Linked DNA regions of Homo sapiens: all the other regions are linked to region 1. The links come from fine-mapping of genetic effects on gene expression. A gene starts in region 1. Each other region holds a variant in brackets. All regions are shown on one strand. Distances are between the middles of the regions.

What was found. PIP is the estimated chance that this variant, and not a neighbour inherited with it, causes the effect. A credible set is the group of variants that fine-mapping cannot tell apart.
Region 2: its variant is the best candidate, but not a certain one, in a credible set for the expression of PGAP1 in hypothalamus (GTEx, PIP 0.82).
Region 3: its variant is the best candidate, but not a certain one, in a credible set for the expression of PGAP1 in subcutaneous fat (FUSION, PIP 0.53).
Region 4: its variant is the best candidate, but not a certain one, in a credible set for the expression of PGAP1 in whole blood (TOPMed, PIP 0.57).
Region 5: its variant is the best candidate, but not a certain one, in a credible set for the expression of PGAP1 in whole blood (TOPMed, PIP 0.55).

Annotation. Positions count from the first base shown.
Region 1 is chr2:196,924,499-196,929,606 of GRCh38, forward strand. PGAP1 (post-GPI attachment to proteins inositol deacylase 1) reads right to left here and starts at 2,209. Exons shown (of 27, transcript NM_024989.4): 1 at 1,972-2,209. The coding sequence starts at 2,118. RefSeq lists a silencer at 2,158-2,407.
Region 2 is chr2:197,020,031-197,025,138 of GRCh38, forward strand. The region is part of intron 17 of ANKRD44 (ankyrin repeat domain 44); the gene reads right to left. Among named protein-coding and RNA genes, the nearest start is that of PGAP1, 96 kb to the left of the region's middle. The variant A/G (reference allele first, on the strand shown) is at 2,653.
Region 3 is chr2:196,671,173-196,676,280 of GRCh38, forward strand. CCDC150 (coiled-coil domain containing 150) reads left to right here. Exons shown (of 28, transcript NM_001080539.2): 9 at 1,173-1,265; 10 at 3,069-3,176; 11 at 4,971-5,095. Among named protein-coding and RNA genes, the nearest start is that of CCDC150, 34 kb to the left of the region's middle. The variant A/G (reference allele first, on the strand shown) is at 2,990.
Region 4 is chr2:196,844,133-196,849,240 of GRCh38, forward strand. It overlaps PGAP1 (post-GPI attachment to proteins inositol deacylase 1), which reads right to left. Exons shown (of 27, transcript NM_024989.4): 21 at 3,815-3,905; 22 at 2,871-3,068; 23 at 1,750-1,885; 24 at 392-442. Among named protein-coding and RNA genes, the nearest start is that of C2orf66, 37 kb to the left of the region's middle. The variant G/A (reference allele first, on the strand shown) is at 3,014.
Region 5 is chr2:196,949,297-196,954,404 of GRCh38, forward strand. No RefSeq gene overlaps it. Among named protein-coding and RNA genes, the nearest start is that of PGAP1, 25 kb to the left of the region's middle. The variant C/T (reference allele first, on the strand shown) is at 2,264.

The DNA.
Region 1 (5,108 bases):
AGATAACATGACCTGGTATGCAAAACAAAAAGACTTAAGAATACAATATAAATACTATCATGAATTAACACAGCTTTTTACATCATAAAAACCTGCTAAAAATCAAAAACTTCTGCCACTGTGATTATTACTGTATTAGCAAATTATTAATAGAAGTGTAAAACCCCAAAAAAGCAACTTAAACCAAAATAACTAAACCTAGACTACTCAACAACAATAAAAACCCAAAGAGCTCTTTACCATTAGCTACACTAATTTTCTGTTTTTCCAGTCAATTTATGAGGCAGGAAATGCGTCTGTGAGATCCATATGCTTTGTTCCCAACGCTAAAGAGAACAATTTCTACTTCTGTGAATATTAAAATAGCTTCAATAATTGTAGGAAATCTAAAAATAAATGGGAATTAGTACTGTACTGTCACAAAATGATTTTAACCAAACTCTTCAATGCGGTACAAAACTAAAGTGACCTACTTCAATCTATTGGGAGTTTCCTAATTATTAAACCAAAAATAAGGAGGGAATTATAATAGCTCTATTTTCAGTTTTTTAAAATACTAAACTAAAAAGGTTTGCTTAGAAATGAACAGAGACGACAGTAACATGTCAAAATCTTCTCCTTCGATAGCATCCCTACCAAATGTTTCCACTCTCTTATCATCATAAATGCAAAACCAAGGTAAGGATCTAAACACAAATGAAATCTAAATTTACTAGAATTTTTCCCATGGGAAAGAATGCTCTTCAGCAATTTAAACCTTAAGTAGTCTTAAGATCAAAATAATAGCAGCGTAATCAAGTAACAGGCTTCCTCCATAATGACTTGTACAAAGAAGCAATCAGGACTTGCATCCTTCACCCTAAAAAAAAAACTGCTGTGATTTTAAGAGTATACTAAAAATGTATTTTATCAATATATGTTATAGTGCATATACATTTTATGGTAGGGAATTATTACAATAGGTAGTCCATAATTAAGAGATGCACTTAGAAATAAAAGAATCATTCGGAAAAATTCTCTTAGGACAGTTGTGTAATTTGTCTGCGCCTCTTTTTACAGCTAGTCATGAATGAAATTCTAGATCCTACTATGCCGAACTAACGAAGCCATTGATTGAAAACATTCAAAATGGCATGGAAGCGGTAGGGGTGGAGAGAGAAGGGTTGGCTCTCTCTTAAACTCCGAACCCAGCGAGAAAACAAAAATAGCACCATGAAATAGATTTTGTATGCAACTATTAAGAGGCTCGGCTGCTGAGAGACATGCATAAACACAGGTATGCACACACACAGGCAAGCCCACACACGCACGGCCCCTTAACCTGCAAAATAAGAGGATCTGCAACATCTTTCCAAGAGGGGATCTAGTTTCCAATTCAATGACTCGCCAGTTTACCCATAGGCAAAACCCTGGAGTCTCTAAAAACAGCCTTGGGAACTATCTAGCCAATATACACTCTGCAGACGCTCGGTCCCTTTCTAGAAATGCGAAATCTGACGAGCAGATCACCGGGCGCGAGGGGAATTTAGGCGCGTGGGAAGCAAAGGAAGGTCCTGGGGCACGGGTTAAGGCAAGAACGCGAGAGGGATGGAGCTTCGGTTTAGGGAGAAGGGTTGAGGCTGCCTCTCTGGGCATGAGGGGGGCTGGGCCCGGCCAGTCAGAAGAGCTTGTGCCCAGGATTTGGGGCTGGGGAGGAGGCGGAGGGACAGCGGAGTAACTACGAGGACGACCACGAGGATGCTCTCGGGAAATCGTCTAACAAACACCCCACCGTGAAGAAGGGACACAAAGGGGAGGTGAGGGGGGCAGAAGGGGGATGCAGAGTCTCCCCGGGCGGAGAAAACAGAGGCGAGGACGGGACAGGGGGCCCGAGAGGCGCAGAGAGCCAAGGCAGGACGAACCCACAGAAGGAAAAAGGCACCAGGGGCCAGAGTCTTGGAGCGCCCGGCTGAGGAGAGGGCAGAACCTTACCTGATACTCCGGGTACTCAAACATGTAGCTCATACTGCACTTATTCTCCTCGAAGCCGAAGAAGACATCCCACAGCCCCAGGGTTGCCAGAAAGACCATGAAGACATAAAACGCCAGGTTCCAGAGATTAACTGAGTGAAGAAACATGGTGCCGCCACCACCGCCGCCGCCGCCGCCGCCCCCTCTACCTCCTTCTCCGCCGCGGGGCCCCAAGCCCGGACTGAGCGTGCTAGACACTGTCCGACCGCCACCCCCGGAGCCGAGCCCCAGCCGCGCGCGCCTGCGCTGATGCCCGGCCTGCCCGTTCGCCAGCCGCGCAGTGCGCCTGCGCGCACCAGGTCCGCGGCGCCTCTGGCCTGGCGACTCCCAGAGCCGAGGGAGGAGTAGGTGTTGCAGCGCGAGCGCGGATCTACGGGAAAGAGAAAGAGGGAGAAAGCAGGGTGGGCTGGGCTGGAGGGTGAGGGGAAAGAAGGGAAGTGGGGAGAGAAAGACGCGAGGAGTGGCTGGCGGGAGGGAAAGAAGAGAGAGAGAGGAAGCATCCAGAGGGGGATGGGCGGAGCGCGGGAGCCCTGGAGACGAGCCGGGGGATTGGGCAGGAGGCGGGTGTCAGATGGGTGAATCTGGGGAGGGGACTAGAGCCCAGAGTCCAGAGGCGATTAAGGACCGAGAGCGGACCGAGAGAGGGGAGGAGGACTTAAAAGCCCAGGGGTCATCAGCTGTCACCTCGCAAACGCCTCTCCCTGCGGCAGTTTAAAAACGCTTCCCGTTCAATTTTGAAAAGACTCAGGCCTCCGCAATTTCGGTTTTCCCAACGGTAGTAGAGCACACTCACAGCTCTCTGGAGCAGTTAGCTTGAAGAGGGAACAAATGGCTTTATTTTCCCTCTTCTACCGCCTACTTGGGCCCAGTAGGTAACAGCGCTTAAAAGCACCGGCTCATTAAAAAAAAAAAAAAAAAAAAAAAAAAAAACACCCGCAAGCCGACGAGATTCTGCTCTTGGTATCAGATGAAAGCCTGAATCACAAAAAGCATCGTTAGTCCTTAAAATATGTTACCAAAATATCTATTAGCACTGACGTCCCCAACAGGTATCTGCGTAATCAGTTTGACGCTGACTCGCCTTGCTCTCCAGAACCTCCATCTCTTGGGGAATGGGTTCCACGTTAACTGGAGGAGGCAATTTCGTCCAGCTTCCATTCAAACTCGCAAATGACTTAATTCGTTTTGAAGAATTTCGGTTCTGTTTTGTACAAAGGAGGAGTTTTTAAAAAAAGCTCGAAATCAATCACTTGTAGCAGCTTCAAAACACTAGAATGTTAGGAAAAAGACATCACTCTTTAAAGCTGACTCAACAGTAGACGGTGTGTGTGTGCGTGTGTGTGTAGTAACCACAGGATTCTTAGAATGGTCTTTGGCACTAAATGAATTTCATTGAACTTGGGCTGATTTTCTGGTATATTTTCTGTGCAGAGGAAGTTTGGCTACAATACATAAAATCAAAGAATTTTAAAACCAAAAGGAAGCTTATAGTTTATCTTGTACAACACCCTGATGTTCAGATTACGAAACTATGAAGAAGAAGTGGAGTGATCCTGAAAATCAAGATAGTCTTTACCCTGCACAGAAACAGTTGCAAGTCTAAACAAACACAGCTAGCTACGGAATGTGGAGTATTGACGGAGAAAGACAGAAATGGGAAAATGCGGAAGCAGTCTCCTTTTTTGTAGGGAGATAAGTCTGGAAAGACCAGGATAACAGGGGAGCTGTAGGTGGTACTGATCAGGAGGGCAATTAAGTAATATGTCATTGAAGTAAGTCCTGTATGAGACGTGTCGTTTTTGTTTGTTTTGAGACTGAGTCTTGCTCTGTCGCCCAGGCTGGAGTGCAGTGGCGCGATATCGACTCACTGCAGCCTCCGCTTCCCGGGTTCAAGTGATCCTGGTGCCTCGGCCTCCAAGTAGCTGGGATTATAGGTGTGACCACCACACCTGGCTAATTTTTTTTTTTTTTTTTTTGAAACGGAGTCTTGCTCTGTCGCCCAGGCTGGAGTGCAGTGGCGCGATATTGACTCACTGCAGCCTCCGCTTCCCGGATTCAAGTGATCCTGGTGTCTCAGCCTCCAAGTAGCTGGGATTATAGGTGTGACCACCACACCTGGCTAATTTTTTTTTTTTTTTTTTTTTTTTTGAGACGGAGTCTTGCTCTGTTGCCCAGACTGGAGTGCAGTGGCGCGATCTCGGCTCACTGCACCCTCCACCTCCCTGGTTCAAGCAATTCTCCTGCCTCAGCCTCCCGAGTAGCTGGGATTACAGGCACACACCATCATGCCCGGCTAATTTTTTATTTTTAGTAGAGACGGGGTTTCACCATGTTGGACAAGCTGATCTCGAACTCCTGACCTCTTGATCCACCCGCCTCATCCTCCCAAAGTACTGGGACTACAGGCATGAGCCACTGTGCCCGGCTTACCTTTTTGTATTTTTAGTAGAGAAGGCATTTTGCTATGTTGGCCAGGCTGGTCTCAAACTTCTGTCCTCAAGTGATCCACCTGTTTCGGCCTCCCAAAGTGCTGGGATTACAGGTGTGAACCACAGCACCCAGCCTGAAATTCTTTATGAAGTGGTGATTTCACTTGGGAATGTCATGTCTGTTATATTCTATTAATAGGTATAGAATGTGTTAAATTTGTAGAATTACACCAACATGACTGGATTATCAAGAAGAACCCATTTTGATCGCAAGATGTTAAGAGATAAATGTGATAAAGAGGAATATATACTATAGGGTTTTGACATTGTTGACCATAAAAGAGAATGCATGTGGGGTTTGGGATGCAATTACCAGTGAGTGCAGAGGATTACAAATCATTTGGGGAAGGCTTTAAGTTATAAATAAAAAGGGGGGAATACATTGAGTCTGGGTGCTAAAGAACATCAAAGGCAGAACGTCTCCTCTTTATTTCTCCTAGCATGGTAGGAGTAGTATTATGACAAATAAACCCAGGGTGAATCCATACTCCCTCATCTCTATCTCAGTGCTTCTTAAAGTTAATGTGCATGTGAATCACTTGGAGATTTTGTTAAAAAGCAGATTCTGGGCCGGGCACAGTAGCTCATGCTTATAATCCCTGCACTTGG
Region 2 (5,108 bases), 96 kb after region 1:
GTCTCAAACTCCTGGACTCAAGTGATCCACCTGCCTTGCCCTCCCAAAGTGCTGAGATTACAGGCGTGAGCCACCACATCCGGCCACACAAGTGATTTTAAGCCAACTCAGGAGCACTTCATGTAAAACTTGAGATAAAAGGAGTGCCTACATCAGTGTGTACATCAGGCTATGACACTTGACTCCAGGCTTAGTCTGTCGCTTAAACTTGGACTTAACTTGCTTAAGTTAAAGAGACCTAATACTAAAATCAAATGGAGTGAACCATGCTGGCAATTAGGAAAGCTTTAAAATTTCAACCCATACTTTCTTCTATACCAGGCACTTGAAAACCCTCTTAAAGACAGAATGGTTGAGAGGCCAGATTTATCTATAGCAGGGGTGTCCAATCTTTTGGCTTCCCTGGGCCACGTTGGAAGAATTGTTTTGGGCAACACATAAAATACACTAACACTAATGATAGCCGATGAGCTTAAATAAAAAAAATTGCAAAAGGAATCTCATCATGTTTTAAGAAAGTTTACAAATTTATGTTGGGCCACAATCAAAGCCATCCTGGGCACATGCAACCCTTCAGCCAGGGGTTGGACAAGCATAATCTATAAAATTCGCTTTGTTTCTTTATCTAGTTTGTAGCTCCTGAATTTTACTATGCATAAAGTAAAGCCTTCACTAGAAGTATTAAACATTTTAAATTGTTTTAAGCAACACCTTTAAAAAGCCTTATTAGGTAACAATTATTTCTTTTTTTTTATAATTATATATGGAGTTTTTTATTATTATTATACTTTAAGTTCTAGGGTACATGTGCACAATGTGCAGGTTTGTTACATATGTAAATATGTGCCATGTTGGTGTGCTGCACCCATTAACTCTTCATTTACATTAGGTATTTCTCTCAATGTTATCCCTCCTCCCTCCCCCCATCCCACGACAGGCCCAGTGTGTGATGTTCCCTGCCCTGTGTCCAAGTGTTTTCATTGTTCAGTTTTCACCTATGAGTGAGAACATGCAGTGTTTGGTTTTCTGTCCTTGTGATAGTTTGCTCAGAATGATGGTTTTCATCTTCATCCATGTCACTACAAAGGACATGAACTCATCCTTTTTTATGGCTGCATAGTAGTCCACGGTGTATATGTGCCACATTTGCTTAATCCAGCCTATCATTGATGGACATTTGGGTTGGTTCCAAGTCTTTGCTATTGTAAATAGTGCCACAATAAACATACATGTGCATGTGTCTTTCTAGTAGCATGATTTATAATCCTTTGGGATTTACAATCCCAGTAATGGGATGGCTGGGTCAAATGGTATTTCTAGTTCTAGATCCTTGAGGAATTGCCACAGTGCCTTCCACAATGGTTGAACTAGTTTACACTCCCACCAGCAGTGTAAAAGCGTTCCTATTTCTCCACATCCTCTCCAGCACCTGCTGTTTCCTGACTTTTTAATGATCGCCATTCTAACTGGTGTGAGATGGTATCTCATTGCGGTTTTGATTTGCATTTCTCTGATGACCAGGGATGATGAGCATTTTTCATGTGTCTATTGGGTACATAAATGTCTTCTTTTGAAAAGTGTCTGTTCATATCCTTTGCCCACTTTTAGATGGGGTTTTTTGATTTTTAAACTAATTTCTCTCAGGAACTGACCAAACAACCAAACCAAATGTTAAGTAAGTTTACAGAATATGTGAGCTGCACAATGAGAAAAATTTCTCTAACTGCCGTATAAAACACTATGTCTAGCAACTACGAAAGACAACTTTTTATAAACAATTATCTCTTAAACGTGATTAATTTCTCCAGACCTTTTAAGATAGGAACTAAGGACAATGAGGGGAAAGAATTGGGATCTCAACAGAATCCATGAGAACAATGGATCTGTCTGGAAATCTTGACAGCTAGAGCCTTTCATTTGCATAACATTGTTTCTTAATTTAATCTTTTCAAGAGGATGAAATGCTTATGAAATTCACTGGGCCAATAACCCTGGAGATTTGAATCATTCAGCCAGGAAATAGTAACTCAAGGCAGGTCAGGTTTCTTGTAGCAGTCAAGGTTTGGGGGCATCTGGTTCCATTACACTGCTAGATGGCTTCCACCTAAGAAATTATGTGCCTTGGGTTTTATCAAGTTAATTGCTACTGAGGCCCCTAGAGAGGGTGATGGGCATACCTTTTGGGTCCTTAAAGCAAATAATTTGTATTTAGAGAGAAAGAATAAAATGACTTTAGAAGGAATCCACCGTAATCACCCTGGTCAAAGTCATGGTCATCATCTCTTGCCTGGTTTGCTTTGCTTCTGCTTTCGTTCCCTTGCAATTTTGACTCAACATAGAAACTAAAGTGATCCTTTTAAAACAAAAGTCACATCATATCAATCTGTTTCCTCAAGACCCTCCTAATAGTTTCCTATTTTGTTCAGAGTAAAAGTCCCCATGAGATCTGTGGTGGCCCCCCAAACTCCTGGCTCCCTCCACAACATGTGAGGCATTGCCCCCAGCTACTCTCCTCACCACTCTGCTCCAGCCACAGTGGCCCCTTTCCTGTTCTGTGGACAGTTCATGAGTTCCCCCAGGGACTTTGCACTTCTGCCCAAAACACTCCTTCATCAGATGTCAACATGCATAGCTCTTAAGGTCTCTGTACAA[A/G]TATGAGATTCTATGCTACGTAAAATAGCACCCTGGCCAGGTGCAGCAGCTCATGCCTGCAATTACAGCTACTCAGGAGGTTAAGACAGGAGGATCACTTGAGCCCGGGAGTTTGAGACCAGCCTGGGCAACACAGTGAGACCCCACCTCTTAAATAAATAAATAAGCACCCTGTCTGCCATCTCAATACTTTCTATCTCCCTGATCCCATTTCATTTTCTCTGTAGCACCTGCAGCACTTATTGCCATCTGTCATTTGAGATATTTCCTCGCCTGTTTGTCTCCCCTAGACTGGATACTCTGCAAGGGCAGAGGTGGGGTTTTGTTCACTGCAATATCTCCAGCTACTCAAACAGTGCTTGGCACTATTCACAGTCAGTGTATGTTGGATGAAAGGATGATGTTAATAATGATGTTATATGATGTTAGTAATGATGACGATGAAGCTAGCTCATGGCACATATGTGTGCCAGGCACTGTTCTAATTGTGTTACATCCATTAACTCATGCCATCTCCACAATGGCCCTACGTTGAGGTACTGCTATTCTCATATCATGGGTAGGGACACTGAGACATAAGAGGTGAGGTATTTGGGTTAATATCACACAATAAACAATTCAATAAATTAACAAGTTGGAAAGGGTCTTTGAGATGCTTAACTAACAGATTCCCTTTAACTTACAGGTGGGGAAACCATGCACAGGTGAGTTGCTAATGAAAAGAATGGCAGCTAGGACCTCCACTTGATGTACCTTTCCTGGGTCTCTGTCAGCTGCAGAACTACCAAAGCCCACCTCTTTTAAATGATATCACCACCCTATCTTTACGCAGCCAGCAACCCATAGAGTTTAGCAGAGTACACAATAAGCATTCAACAAATACACTGTGGAAAAAAAAAAGAAGAACGAGAGATGATCAAGTCTTTGGAAGCCAAGAAACTCTTCTCAGATTAGTAGCAGGCTTGGCAATGCAGTCAAACCCACTTTCTTGGGGCCTGAGAATTGTATCTGAGATAACCCTCCACATAAGACTCTCTAGGGGCAGTTAGTGCTATGTTTGTGAGTGCTCAGCTTTGGGGTAACTTCCCCAGGCACAGCAGATGGTTGGGCAGGGATTCTAGCAAGCAACCTGTACTAAGGGCCAACTGGCATGAAGATTTATATGTATAAATATCCCACTATTCATCCACATTTTCCACAGTAAGTCCATCTCCGGGAACACAGACTGATGCACACTTTACCCTGATTTCACTGGACTCAAAATGCATGTGTGTATGAGCGTGTAGTGGGTGTGTTGGTGGGTGTCAGAGGACGTGTGAGTGGGTGTCAGCAGGTGTGCTGTGAGTATGTGGGGAGACAGGCAGTGAAAGGAAAGCTCCACACATATGGTCAGTTCTGGATACTCCCAATCCTTGTGTGATGGCCTTGTCTCCGCTCTCTTGCCTGAACACCTCTGCATGTCAATTAATAAAACACTCCTCTCTTCTCTCCAAAATTTCCAGGTCAATTTTTCATCAGAATGACACTGAAGGAGTGCTTATGTACACATAGTATTAAGTGAAAAGTCATAAACACAGTTAAACAAAGAAACCCAGCCCCTTCCCATTCTTCCTGGTGTCCTGCCCCTGGGTTTTACTAAGCAAAGAAGCATCCAAACACCATCTTTGTGGCCTTGAACCAAGTGCTCACAATTCAGCAGCACCAAGGGCACGTGAGTGCCTCGGGAAGGTGAGCTGGCTGTTGCTGGGTGTGGCTGCCAGTCAGCAGGGTTCCTAGGGAGCAGCTGCTGATGGCCAACTCTTAGCAACTCACAATCTGAGACAGAGTGGTGGGTGCACTTCCCACCTTGGTCACTCCCATGAAGAGTTTGGGGATCATCACTCTGAGCTGTTGCATTTGCCTTCAATTACTGGGATGTGGAGAGGAAGCGTTACTGGTGATAAAATAACTCTTCTTCCCTCACCTCCCAGATCTCACCCAGTACAAGAATCAGAGCCTCAGACTTCGTTGAAGACCCTGATTTCAAGTCCAGGCAGAAGGTCGCAGCTGCAGCTCTGCATGTGCTCATCTTGCTCTCATCAGTTTGTGCTGAAACATCCTGCCAGTTTTTAACTGTGGTATTCAATTAGCCATAGGTTTTCCACTTGTATATTGTTATCGCTAATCAAATCTCTTAAACTGAAATGTATCCTTTGAATTTTAAAGACGGTTAAACTCTACAAGAATAAAGGTTAAGGGCTTTGGGTGCATTATCTCTTTTCATTTGCCCTCATTTCGCAGATGGGGAAACTGAGGCTCAAGACAGGGTAAGTCATGTGTCTAAGATCACCAGCAGATGAAGCTGGGAATGAAGGCGAGGCAGTCTGTCTCCACAGCCTGTGCCTTTTACCACGGACTACTTTCACTACCACTCATCACTGTGTTACTACATTTACATTTTAAGAGCAATCTAGTTT
Region 3 (5,108 bases), 250 kb before region 1:
TATCATTCAGAGTAGTTTCATTGCTCTAAAAATCTTCTGTGCTTTGCCTATTCATCCCTCCCTCCCCTTCTAATCCCTGGCAATCATTGATCTTTTTACTGTCTCCATAGATTTGCCTTTTCCAGAATGCCATATAGTTGGAATCATATAGTCTATAGCCTTTCAGACTGGCTTCTTTCACTTAGTAATAAGTATTTATGTTTCCTCCATGTCTTTTCATGGCTTGATAGCACATTTTTCTTTCTTTTCTCTCTCTTTTTTTTTTTTTTTTTTTTGAGACGGAGTCTCACTCTGTCACTCAGGCTGGAGTGCATTGGCACTATCAGCTCACTGCAACCTCCACCTCCTGGGTTCAAGCGATTCTCCTGTCTCAGCCTCCCGAGTAGTTGGGATTACAAGTGCCCTCCACCACGCCTGGCTAATTTTTGTATTTTTTAGTAGAGATGGGGTTTCAGCATGTTAGCCAGCTGGTCTCAAACTCCTGACCTCAGGTGATCTGCCTGCCTCAGCCTCCCAAAGTGCTGGGATTACAGGGATGAGCCATCGTGCCTGGCTGAAAGCTCATTTATTTTTAGTGCTGAATAATATTCCTTTGTCTGGATATACCACAAGTTATCCATTAACTTACTCATGGACATCTTGATTGCTCCAACCTTTGGCAATTATGATTAAAGCTGCTATAAGTATCTGTGTGCAGGTTTTTTGTCTGGGCATAGGTATTCAGCTCCTTTGGGTAAATCCCAAGGAGCATGATTACTGGATCATATGGTAAGAATATGTTTAGTTTTGTAAGAAATCACCAAACTGTCTTCCAAAGTAGCTGTACCATTTTACATTCCCACCAGCAGTGAATGAGAGTCCCTGTTGCTCCACATCCTTGACACCAGTTGGTGTTGTCAGTGTTCTAGATTTTGGCCATTGTAATAGGTGTGTAGTGGTATCTCATTATTGTTTTAAATAAACAGTTTTGATAAATAGTTTTGAAATAAACAGAAGTTTAGGAGTTGAAGATACCAAGATTTTTATACATTCTTTATAAGACATTTATAAAGTTCCAGTGTATGTCATTGGAACTTGAACTTGTACTGGCCGAAATACAAAACAGTTATTTTTATAGGGGTGCACATAGTATCTCTTATATGTGAAAAAGAGAGTAATTTTTTTTCTTATAGAACCTGCAGATATCTTTCAACAAGGAACATGAAGAAAATGCATATTTGAGGTCCGAAATAATGTCTCTTCATGAAGCATCAGAAAAAGCACAAGTAAATGCTCATGATTTTGTTAGTTTTTAGATGTTATTTAATTTTGTTCAATTAAATAACCAAGAAACAAAATTAGTCTTGATTATATAAATTCATACCATCTCCATCACCCAACTTTTCATTTCCATAAGATTTATTTCATCTTTGAAACATTATCAAATTAACTACGTTTCTCATTTCGCTCTCCAAATTCCTATGATATATAAGTATACAAGATGTACCACTATAATTATGCACTAGTTTACACTTTGCCTTTGCTTGCTTTCTAATTTGCTCATTAAATATATGTATTTCCCCCTCCAAAGTGAACTTCTGAATAATTCCATGGCAAGGGCTATGTCTTATACTTTCTTTGTATCTTCTATAGTAAATAATTATACAGTAGGAACCTAACAAATGCTTGCTGGATTTTGAAGTTAGATGTAATCATTTCTGGGATGGTGATTCCCAAATTTAGCTGATGTTTTATATATATGTGCATCTGCAACAAAAAGTCACCAGATATGCAGTCAAATTGGAGTTACTTATCACAGAGCCAAAAGAAGTGTTTATCATTTAAAATAACTTTTCTCTTGGTACAATTTGATTGTCTCAATATTAGGATCATAGTGTTGCTGGGCTCTGTGTATAATAAAAATAATGAAGTATAAAATGAATGTGTTTTTAAATATAATAACATCAACTACTATTACTCTTTCTATACTAATAGTAGGTAACATTTTTACTGAGCCCCTTCTACATTCCAGGCACAATTCCAGGCACCTTATATTAGTAACAAATTGTAATCCTCACAATAGCCCTATGAAATGGAAACTTATTCACATTTTAAAGATAAGGAAGCTGATGTACAGAGAAGTTCAGGAACATAGATAATAGGTGGCAGAGTTGGAATTTGAACTCAGGTAACCTGGCTCCAAAGAAAAGTAGCTATTTCTTTTCAAGGAGCAAGGGTTCTCTGTTTCGTCCCCAGGTATTCTTTGATGAATAGCTTGTACATCTGCATCTGGTGTGACTTTAAGCCCCTGAATTTGTTTCTAACTACTGTACTGCCTGCCCATACCACTTGTGATGTTTGCCAGATAATCTTTTATTTATCTTTTCTTTTACTCCATTTTATTTTTTGTGTGTTTTCTTCCTAGTGCTCTTTCAAAGTTGCTTGTTCTTGAAGAACTTGTTTAAAACATAAGATCTTTGCCAAATCTACCTTGCAAAAATAACTGATAATTGAGATAAATGTTTCTCTCAATAATACAAATTTCAAATTATGAAAAGAGAATTATTAACTACCTACATATATGATATATCTGTGTAGCTCAAACAATTTTTGTTTTATTTTGAAAGATTAATCTCGTGATGGTAAAATCATCTATATTTTGCTTTTATGAATATTGTCAGCTGGTGGTGAAGGAGCTTAGGTATTTTGTGTTACCAGCTAAATAATTCTGAATGCTCATGGATTTCTATAATATTGGCTAGGTACTGACATTGTAAATTCCATTTTGCAGATGTCTTGCTCTAATGAACCAGTGTTCAAATTTGTGAAGAACAGAAGATCAGTAAAATGCCATATGCTTCAGTTGCTCTACCAAATCAACAAATCTCTTAATTTAGAATTATTTATGGTGTAGACTTTTAATATTTGGAAGTATTTTTTAAACTAATGACATGTGAATTGAGGATAGGTTAAATAGATTAGTTTCATATATACAGTGAGATACTATGCA[A/G]TCATTAAAAATAATAATACATAAGTAAAAATAATTCTTTATTGGAGAGACCAATGACTTGCTGTGTGTGTTTTCTTAGGTTTTGAATGACCAATTGACTAAAAAGTGTTCAGAGTTGAGCTGCATGCTTCAGACTGTTACTATGGAAAAAGCCAGAATCATTGCTGACCATCAGGCCATTCTGCAGGTATTCGTTTAACATGAAAGCCAACCAGAAAGCCAGCCTGGTTGATAGATCAGGAAATGTTTATGGCCAACTGGAGAAATAAAATATTTTAACAATAAATTTCAAAAAATCTACTGAATTATCTTAATTCTATTAGTGCTTTTCAATTTTCATCAGAGGGGTGATTTGGCCTTACACTCAGGGCTTTTCATGATTTCTTCTCAAATATCATCACTTGAGGAAAAATAATTATTTGTCCCATTGTTTATAGAATCATGGAGAACACGTATGACTAACCTTAAAGTACTTAACCTTTTCCTCAAACACCTTGCCGATTTCTCCTTTTGCTTATGCCATTTTCTCTGCTGAGAATGCTTTTTACTTCATCTTCAATATCTGAAATTCTGTTTATTCTTTAAGAGTCACTTTCATCAGGCAGCTTGATCATCCCAACAGGAAGGGATAAGTTTTCCCTTTCAACTTCTATTCCTGGGACACTAAACAGACCACCATAGTAATAGATCACTTTCTCTTTTTGTAAGCATACTTACTATATATACTAAGCATTGTGCTAAGGATTTTACACATATTACCTCCTTTAATTGTAGCAGCCATTATGTAAAAGGATATTTATTATCCTCATTTTACAGATAAGAAAATGAGGGTTAGAGAAGTTCACTTGCCCAAATTCACCTAACTAGTAAGAGGTAGAGTTGTGTTTTAACCTAGGGTGACTCCAGAGTCAATGTATATAATCATTATGCTGCATCCCTATTCTGCATTCTCTAGTAGTAATTTATGTGCTGGTTCATTTCCTGGATTACACTGTGAGCTCTCTAGAGGCAAGGACATTACCTTATATATCTTTATTTCTCATAGTGCTAAGCATGCTTTGCACATAACATATACTCAATAAATACTTAGTTTTTAACTCTGTGCAAGTATAATGCTATATCTAGATAGGATTATAGTGGTGAACAAGACAAAATTCCTACTTTCATGGACTTATAATTCAGTGGACTGAATATATAGTGAAATATTTATTACAAATATTTCAAAATTTTGGAATATAACAATTGGGATCCCATTTTACCAGTGTGAAGACTTGCTTTGCAATCAAATATTGTTAAAATAGAAGTTTTTTAAAAAGTATTTATAAAACTAATTGTTGATATGTACTGTATTTGCAAAAACTTTATGGATTATGTGTAGGGGTATATGGTACATAAAAATGTCATGTTTTGATAATTCCAAAATGGTGAGCCAAAGAAAATAAACTATGTAAAACAGTTATAGTGCTTCTGCTGTAACATTATCTGAGTGCAATTTAAGATAGTCTTAAAAGAATTCACAGCAAACTGTTAAACATGATAATCCTTAGAATGTGGGATTATTTGGAGGGGAAGTGCAGATAGAGAGGAAAGGATCTTTTCACTTTATATACATTTATATTGTTTTACTTTTAAAAATAAAGTACCATATTGAAATTTTAAAATACCAAAATTACTTGTAATATAATTTTCTATATTTAAAAATTTGTTGGTATTAGGAGTTTTATAATTTTTCAGCAGGCTGGGTAAATAATGCATCTTGACTATTGGCTAGTAGAGCTATAAAATGATAGAACTAGTCAACTCAGAGGAGGACAAAGAGAAACTGGGCATTGAAATAAATTGTTTTAAAAAGAGGTTTTATTTATGTAAATGAAACTTGTTTTTTTAAGTTAGTTCAGTGTTTTTGATCAGTTACTCCAAATGACACCCTATCAAAAGACTTTGTGGAGCTTCAACTTCTAATATTGCTTTTAACACTCAGGTAGAGCAGAAAATGATGACGCAGACATTTCAAGAACAAAACTTATTGCTGGATGCAGCCCATGCCAGTATCACAAATGAACTACAGACTGTTCAGAATGAGAAAACCCAACTCCAGGCACATCTGTAAGTAAATTAT
Region 4 (5,108 bases), 80 kb before region 1:
TAGAATCATACTCATTACTTATCAACTAAATAAGTACATCTTTCCATTACCAAACTGACATAAAATCCTGAAATTACTTTGCTTAAAAATACTTTAAAATTGTTATAAAACCTTTATTCTTTTGACTTGCTAGTTCTACTGCTAAGAATATATCTAAGTAATTATTCAAAATAAAATTTAATAGACAATAAACTTGTAAAAAAATGACATGGGTACTGACAAAAGATGAACTTATAAGTCTTTTAAAATATTCATTAGGTTCACTTTACTTAAATTCATAATACTGTATCTTTTAAGCACTATGAAATACTAACCTTAAAAAAAAAAACTCTTATATTTCCCCATGTTCTTTCATTTTAAATTTATGTAGAGTTTTGAAAATAAAACTTACCACAGGCTGGCTATTCTTAAAAGTTGTTAAGCTGGCTTGCAGATGAACAACCTAAGAAAAATAAATTGCTCTTTAATTTTACTTTTATTTTGAAACAAAACATATAAGCCTTTTGGTATTAAAAATGAGAAGCACTGTAATCTGAAATGTTTAAAATGTAAACCAAAAAGTCATTTAAACATTTAAAAACATTCTTATACAAAACAACAACTACACATGCTGGCTATCATGGATTAAAAAACAAACAAAAGCAACAAACAAATGAACAAAAAAACGGAAACAGAAACAAAACAATACAAACTTCTGGAGTATGGTGGGGCCAGGATATACCGCTATACCTTTTATAACCTGTAAAAGCCTATGTTTGAATGATGCTTTGTTATAGCAACTTAAAGTGTCTTGTAAGTCAAAGATTTCATTACATTCAATATAGTAAAAGGATATAACACATTTCACATATTTTAAGTCTTTGAAAACCAGAACCCAATTATATACAGTGGTGAAATGTTTATAAGAACTGAAAAAAATCTTTAAATTTAATTTATTAGGGTTACTTAAGTATTTAAGAAAACTTTGCTTAGTGGGTCAGTGGTTTGAATTACCTAATTTAAAAAATACTAAAATTATTATTTATAAATCAAAGTAGCTGTAAATAATTTTTTAAGAAGCATATAAATTTCCTTTGGAAAACTGAAAATAATATATGATATGCATGTATTTACACTTTTAAAAATTTCATTTTTAAGGAAAAAAAGAATTATCCACTCTGATGTCAACTGTCTGTTCCTAAGAATAACATGGAGAGAATACACTTGTATTACCTCCTGGATTTTTTTTTTTTTCTTTGCAAAGCTGTCAGCTTTATCAGACACGTTTTTCACTTCTTCAGTAAAAATATTAGCCTAATTATTTTTATTGTCATCTTCTGATCCTTCAGCAACATTTGTAACATTTTATATTATCTTAGTATGATTAATAGCTTGATCCTACTGACATCACTTTTTGTTTCGTCTCTTACCCATGTTCAAAAAGAGGTGTGAATATAAACTGCCCTAGTGAAATGTTAAAAAAAAAAAAAAATTTAACACTTGTAAAGACTAAGAAGCAAGCAGAAACAGATTATATCTTCTCCTTTCCCTTTCCTTTTTAACAACAAAAAAACCCCAACTTAGATCAATAATTTCCCTTTTCCAGTTAATTGTATGTAATTTAAATAACTAATTACATTCAAACCCGTTATGTAACAGAGGGTTACTACAGTGTTTATGAGAATTTTTGTTAACAATGCCTACGGAACATCCTACATGTATGTGCCTAATACAAAGCTCAATCATTTTGGCTTTACTGATTTGACATACCTTAAACACATAGTAAAGATAAGAAAGAAGTATGGCTAGTGCTCCACAAGTTGTCCAACTAACTATGATCAAGACAATTGTCAAAAAGGGCAAGTCTGGTGATATCATCTTGATATCTTTAGGAAGTTCAGAGGGTCTGGAATTATAAGAATAAAGTTTAAAATATATATTAACAAATATTTATATAGTCACATATAAGAAGAAAACAATATAGTACCCTCCCAGTCTCTCTTGCTTATATGCAAATACATAAGGTAAACAACAAGGTATTTTTTAAATAAAGGCAAGTGGTCCCAAATATTTGATTTTAAGTTCTGTAATGTATTGTGATAACTCCTCTACCATTTTGATAATACTATAGCTGATACTTGTACTACAGGTGAAAAAATGTTACCAAAGATAATCATTAATTATACACTCTGTGCCATACATCTCCAGTCTTGACAGGAGGAGAAACTATGTTCTATTTCTTAAAGCCTAGAGACCACTCAGACCCTTGATGGTGTTACTATCAGAACCCCTATCTGAAGCATCTCAGAAGGGTGGAGGAAGAAGCATCACACCCACCATAATCCCCTCTGTGACAGGAAATCACATGACATGTCTGGTAAGGAGGAGTGGCAATGGGCACTAGATTGATGATTTACCAGGAAAGCCTACCAGTAACTTCAGATTCAAACTGTGTCATTGGGCCCATAATAAAACTCTAGGCAATGTTTTTGGAGCTTTTATATATCTCATCTAATCTGATCCTAATATCTGGTTTACAGTCTCTTGCCCCCTGGTTTCAATATAGAAGTCAGCATATAAAAGCAATATTATGGGAGAAACAATCCCTCCTGGGAAAGATTCACAACCACGAAATGTAAAACTATCTGCGTAATTTGTCAAACTTTTCTTATTAACTCTTGAGCGCTAAGGTCAAAATCAAATGTAACATTTAACTCTTAATAAATGATTAGCTTTCACAGACATAACTTTGAACACTAACCCATACTTTCGCTAGTTATATATTTTTCCTTAGAAAATAGTTTAGTAAAAATAATTAATTTCAGGTTCCTTATCAGAATATATATTTCTTCTTAAAGCAATAAGAAAGCTGTTAATCATTCATTCTTTACCTTTTCAAAGCTAGCCACAATGAAGAAAGAAGTCTCACAGATGCAGAAGACAGTAGGCCACTCCAGTAGGCAGTACACGTTCCAAACAGAAAGAGAATCAAGGATATCAGGGGGAAACACATACTCTGACAAGTTAAAATGAC[G/A]GCATCTAATTCTGGTAACAATAATACATCCCACAATTCTTTAAACCATTTATACCTGTGGAGAAAAGAAAATATAAAAGCAAAAAACCCAACAACTGAAATTTAAGGACTTAATATTTGAGGTGTCTGACTATTCAAGAGAGTCTCTAAAGTTCCATGATACTTAATTTATAATTATACTGAAAAACAAATTTTTAATTCTTTGTATGGAACAAGTCATTTATTTTCCAAGTGAGCCTACTGATCTTTGAAGATCTGCATTTCAGTATAGCTTTACTAATCTATATTGATACTAGTAGAAAGTAATATGTTCTTTTTTTTTTTTTTTTTAGAAAGCCAAGTTAGTTGTAATGATGGAAAAAAAGATCTACATATTGATGCTTAACCAAAAATCTGAAAATGTGACTAAATTAAGAATGGAATGTTAACTAGGGTAGAGAGGTCTAAAATATACTTTTAAAAGTGATCAGAGAGGCACTGTTTCATCAATACCCTGTAATGATTTGCGTTTGAATCTAGGATACTCACAGATCATGGACCATATACACCTATTTACAAACATTAAAGGCAGTCTAAGTTTAGACTGATATACATAAAGTGAATAATTACTTTTGAAATGATACTATTGAAGTAGACATTGATATACTTATTAGACCTTTGCCTAAGAGAAAAAAAAAACCTCATTTAATGAAACAAGTCAACTGCCAAATCTGTATGAAAATTTATATTGCATTATGGAACCAAATATAATGTTACATGTAAAACACAATTAAAATCATTATCACAGATAATAAAACTTACCCCAACAGAAACTTAATGATAATTACAAAAGGATCAACTTTGTATGGTTTGGCTTCTTTATCCAACATGGTAGCATATTCTAAGCAACAACCTGGTGATTTAAAAAAAGTTACATGCAATTTACAGTAATTAAGTATGAGATATACTATATCCCACGTTCTCTAAAACAGCAACATATTTTATGTCAGAGAAAGTAAGGGTCTTCATTACTATCACAGAGACTCTTCTTGAAAGATTAAAAATAGCTGTAATTCAATGGTTCTTATATTAGAGTACACATTCAATCACTTGTAAAAACAAATTCAGGAAGTCAAAGCTGGGGTTTCACCAGCTGTATTTTCACAAAGCTCCACAAGTGATTTAAAAAATTAGCTTTATGGGACAAAATTCTGATATAATTCTTCTATTTAAACATATACAATTTAGTGGTTTTTAGTATATTCAGAATTGTACATCTATCACCACAGTCTTAGAACACTTTCATTACCCACAAAAGAAAGTTTTCTTTTAACTATTACCCCCCAAATTCCCATCCTTTGGCAACCAGTAATCTACTTTCCTTCTCTAAAGATAGGCCTATTCTGAACACTTCACATACATGGAATCATAATATGTGGTCTTTTGTGATGGTCTCCTTCCACTTTTTTCAAGATTCATCCATGTTGTAACATATACCAGTATTTCATTTAATTTCTTTTTAATCAAATTCCTTTTATTCCATTGTATGATTATACTACATTTTATTTTTCCATTCATCAATTGACAGACATTTGGGTTGTTTCTGCTTTTTGGCTGTTATGAATAATACTCCTATGAACATTTGCATATAAGTTTTTGTATGAATATATGCTTTCATTTTTCTTGGTTATATTCCTAGGAATGCAGATGCTGAGTTATGCAATAACTCTGTATTTAGCCATTTGAGGAATTGTCAGACTGTTTTTCACAGTAGCGACACTATTTTACACTCCTACCAGCAGTGTATGAGGGTTCCAGGTTTTCCACATCCTCATTAAAACTTATTATTTGTCTTTTTAAAATTATAGTCGTTCTAGTGGGTATAATCCACAGGTGATTTTTGATAAGCATCCTTGGTTCAGAACTACATATTTAATTGGCTGGATACATAATCCAGTACTTAAAGCCTCTAGATTAACCAGCATCAAATATCCCCTAGATGTACATTCTATATGTCTGAGAATCAATTATCAAGTCAGTTGAAACCAAGAAAAACGAGACCTTTTTCAGACTTTCAAAACAAGATAGACATTTATACTTAAGTCTGGTTCTGGTT
Region 5 (5,108 bases), 25 kb after region 1:
ATACATGGAACTGTCCACCACAGCTGCAGCTGCAGCTGCAACCAGAGGTAGGCCAAGGGTGCACCAAAGGATCTGCGACAACCAGCATGACAGAGCCAGGCATCACATTTGAAAAGCATACTCACAACGCACAGGTTGCTTGCTTTCCATCTCAAAATTGCTAAGAGAGTAAATTTCAAATGTCTCACCACAAAAAAAAAGTTAAATATTTGAGGTGATGGATATGTTAACTACCTTGATTTAATTATTTCACATTGTATTAATAAATCATAACATCACTTTGGACCTCATAAGTTCATACAATTATAAATTGTCAATTTACAATAAAAAAATTTTAAAAATCATTTGTGCAAATTCACCCCCTTGGAGATAAAAGTGGCAATGAAAAAATGTTTAATTATTCATCAGAACTATCAGAACTTATTTTTCCCACTCTTTTTTTTTTTTTTTTTTTTTTTTTGAGACAGAGTTTCGCTCTTGTCTCCCAGGCTGGAGTGAAATGGCACAATCTTGCCTCACTGCAACCTCTGCCTCCCAGGTTCAAGCAATTCTCCTGCCTCAGCCTCCCCAGTAGCTGGAATTACAGGTGCATGTCACCATGCCCGGCTAATTTTTGTATTTTTAGTACAGTTGGGGTTTCACCATGTTGGCCAGGCTGGTCTCGAACTCCTGACCCCAGATGATCTGCCCACCTTGGCCTCCAAAAGTGCTGGGATTACAGGCATGAGCCACCATGCCCGGCCTCCCACTCATCTTTTAAGATGCTGCTCAGGTTCTACATCTTCCAGAAACCTTCTCTGGCTCCCCCTGGCTAGATTAGATGTCGCATTTCAATGCCTCCATAACTCTTTGTGCACTTCTTTGCCACTGTACTTATCTGATTGCATTTTAACTAGCAATATATTTATCTATCTCTTCCACCAGACTGTTTTAGTCGTCTTGGAATGCTATGTTCTCATTTGGCACATAGGAGTTAACTAAATGTTTGTTAAATGGATGAATGAAGGAGTAGTGAGTGAACAACTGATTAAGGAAATAAGAATGTAACGCAAGCCAGGAAATAGTAGGAGGAGACAAAAATAGGGAGAAATGAAGGAATAAAGCACAGGAAATTCAGTCTGAAATTAGATTTTCCTCATTTTAATATATTTTTCTGAATTACCAATATGCTTTCAATGCATCTTACTTGAATATTTTTTTTCCTGTTTTTTTTTTCAGAGCACCACTGAAGAAAGGCATAGCAGGTGATATCCACTGGGACAAATACATACTACCTCCATTTTTCCTTGAGGTTTGAAGAGATAGGCTTGGGGTAAGACAGGTGGAGATCAACATATCATTTTGATTACTTGTAAAGCAGCTATTGGAAAATGCCACTTATGTCTGGGAAAAATACTACATCCCAGAATTAGACTGACATTCCCACTCAGGTGTGGACCACTGCTGGCGATCTGTGTGAGGTCTGGTCCTATAACACTGGCTTAGAGACAAGGGTGCTTCCTGTGGGTAACTGGTCCCAAGAGGAGGAGAGGAGGAAGCATGGGGCTCCCAAATTCAGCAGGTAGGTCACTCCCTTCCCTAGGGTAGAGTGTGTGGATGCAGAGGGTCAGGAGAGTTATACTAACTGATGTCCCTTCACACAGAAGAAAACCCCAGAAGTAGGGAATAAATATTACTGTGAAAGATACTCATTTTATGATTAAGACAAAACAAGTTACTCCCACCAGGATGTACTTATTTTTACAGAAAGGGGAAGCCAGCATGTAGAGTAATTTTTACAGTAAGCAGGTTCAAGTTCAACAGCAGGAGAAAGAGACCAGAAGTTAAAGAAACAATATATGTTCACTTTCACACTAGAGAAACGATCTAAATCTATAATTTAACACTTTTAACATTTTTTAAATAAAATAAACTTTTTTGGAGGAATAATTATCACATGGTACAAATTTCGAAAGGTAAAAAGTGTGAACAGTGAAAAGTCTCTCTTCTATCCTGACAACTACTTTCAGAAGTTATTTTTCTAATTATATGTCATCAGAGATATGTTTTATTTCATTTGCCTTTTCCTCTTGATTTGAAGAGTTCAAGGTCCTCAATTTACAAATGAATTTTTAGAGTATAATCTGCTTGCAAGTCATTTGGAATTCAGATTGCATCGCAAATTTCTGTTTCGGGTTTCTTAAGGTAGTTCACTAACAGTACCCCTAGGCATTGGAGGACACAGCACTCATGGGTCCTACAGCTCTAGCTTTGTTCTGAACTA[C/T]TAGATTAGAGGGGGCAATGACTATTGTGCACATAAGTATCTTTAACTTATAGAGACAATCTATTAAAAAGTTGAAAATCTGTTTAATTACATACAATGGTACCTTCTCTCCTCTTGGTTGCAAATGATACAACTTGAAAAGGAAATATTTTTCACAGTCATTTTTTACTTCAAAGAAGTATGAATATTTCTTTTATAGTATGTTTCAAAACTAATTCACCATCATGATATGTGACAAATATTTTGACTGGGAAAACCAGAGTAGGGATATTTGAAAGATTCTTATCCCAGAAATTGAGACAGCCACCCATCAAGTAATTAAGCCAAATATTTTCTTTTCTCACTCACTCAATTTACTGACCAGATACATTAGGGCAAGGAGTATGCTTGGAGAGGAGTCAGACAGTCTTGAGGGATGAAGCAGATGTGGAAATGAGCAAGGTTCATGGAGTGATACAAAGAAGGAAGTAGTAAATTCTACCCGGAGCTGGGGATGAGGGTTGGAGAGAGGAGGGCACTCAAGAGGCCTCAGTGAGTGTGACCCTTGAAAGGAGACCTCCTTCTGTAGTTCCTACAAAAAGCATAGGCACAGAGCAATGAAACAACCTGCTGTGCCAGGGAACTGCAACTAGGCGGGGCTTTTCTGGCATAAGGAATATGGGGTGGAGTGTGGGAAGAGGTGAAGGTCTGGAGGCTTCTGACCTTCCAGGATTCATGTGGATGCCTTACATCTTAGCCCATCCATCACAATCCTCTGGAAAACTAAAATAAATTATTATTCTTTCTTCTATTACTAATTAGTTTTGTTTTAAGCATATCAACTTATTGTTAATCATTCATACAGGAGGTTACAAAAGGAAAAGTCAAAGCTGTTTTTGCCACTTCTATATCTAACCACCTAGTCCTACTCAGCTGTAGAATATGTTACAAAAACTCTCAGAAGTGCTTATAGGTATCAAGCATTATTTCTTCTGTCTGCTTATTATGTATTTATATAAGACTATTGACTTATTTATATTAATTTTGTATGCTACCTGTTTACCAAATTCTCTTATTATTTATATTAATTTCTCCATTTACTTTTGTTTTCTTTTTTCTCTCTTTTGAGACAAGGTCTTGCTCTATCACCCAGGCTGGAGTGCTGTGATGCAATCACTGCTCACTGCAGCCTCAACCTCCAGAGCTCAAGTAATCCTCCCACCTCAGCCTCCTGAGTAGCTCAGACAACAGGCAAGCTAATTTTTAAATTTTTTTGTAGAAACAGGGTCTCCCTATATTGATCTGGCTGGTCTTGAACTCCTGGGCTCAAGTGATCCCACCTCATCTCCCAAAGTGCTAGGATTACAAGAAATGTGGGCCACTGAGCCAGGCCTATTTTTTGTTTCCTAGATATGTAATCACATCATCTGGAAAGAGATAGTTTTTTATTTTCCTTCTGATTCTTGTGTAATTAAATGCTTTCTCCCAGCCAGGGCAACATGGCAAAACCTCATCTACAACAACAACAACAACAAAAATAGTCAGGCTTGATGGTACAACTGATGTCCCAGCTACGTGGGAGGCTGACGTGGGAGGATCACCTGAGCCAGGGCAGTGAGCCATGATTGCACCACTGCTCTCCAGCTTGGGTGACAAAGCAAGAGCTTGTCTCAAAAAAAAAAAAAAAAAAAAAAACTTTCTCATATAATTGTATTGGCTAATCCCTGTTTCCAAGGCTTAATAGTAATGGACATGGTGGTCATCTTTGTCTTCTTACTACTTTTAATAATGTTTTTCCAGCCAGGTGCAGTGGCTCATGCCTGTAATGCCAGCACTTTGGGAGGCCAAGGCAGGTGGATCACCTGAGGTCAGGAGTTTGAGATTAGCCTGGCCAACGTGGCAAAACCCCATCTCTACTAAAAACACAAAAATTAGCTGGGCGTGATGGTGCGTGCCTGTAATCCCAGCTACTCAGGAGGCTGAGACAGGAGAATCACTTGAACCCGGGAGGCAGAGGTTGCAGTGAGCCAAGATCGTTCCCAGCCTGGGCAACAGAGCAAGACTCCATCTCAGAAAAAAAAAAAAAAAAAAAAAAATTTTCCATTAGGTGGGAAGCTGGCTTTGGCTGAAATAGCCATCAATTTCTATTAATTGAGTATTTTTAACATAAATGCATGTTGAATTTTGTTTGCCAAATACCTTTTTGGCATTTATGGCAGCAGCAATCTGATTTTTTTCCTTAGCTTTATTAATATGATTAATTGTATTAATTGATGCTCTACTAAGGAACCACTCTTGTATTCTCGGAATACATTTTATAATAATACTTATATATTATTATTAAATACTGAAGAAGTGTCATTTTCTGGGGTAAATACCTGAGGTTCATTATCTCATGCCAAGGGAATTGAGGACGTGAACACACAAGAAGTGAGTTTAAGAGCAGAATTTTAATAGGCAAAAGAAAGAGAAAAGAGACTAGATCTCTCTCTTGCAGACCCCTAACTGGATCTTCCAGTTTCGTGGTGAAATGCATGAGGTTTCACAGAGGAGCTTGAGGATGTGGTGTCTGATTTACACAGGGCCCGAGAGAGATTGGTTGGACTAGGTGTGACGTTTGCATAGCACATGAGAAAGCTGGCCATACCACCCTAATCTTTTATTATGCAGATGGACTCTCCACATGGCTGGCGCCATGTTGTCTGTTCCTTACTGTACATATCGTTGACAAAGAAAGGGGAAGATGGAGCCTCCATATTGAACATGCTTGGCCCCCAGGTAGCCTTTTTCTTCTATTGGCACAGCTGCTGGTATTTACCTATGCAAGCTTTTAGCTTGCTTATCTATGCTTGCAGCTTGATTTTTC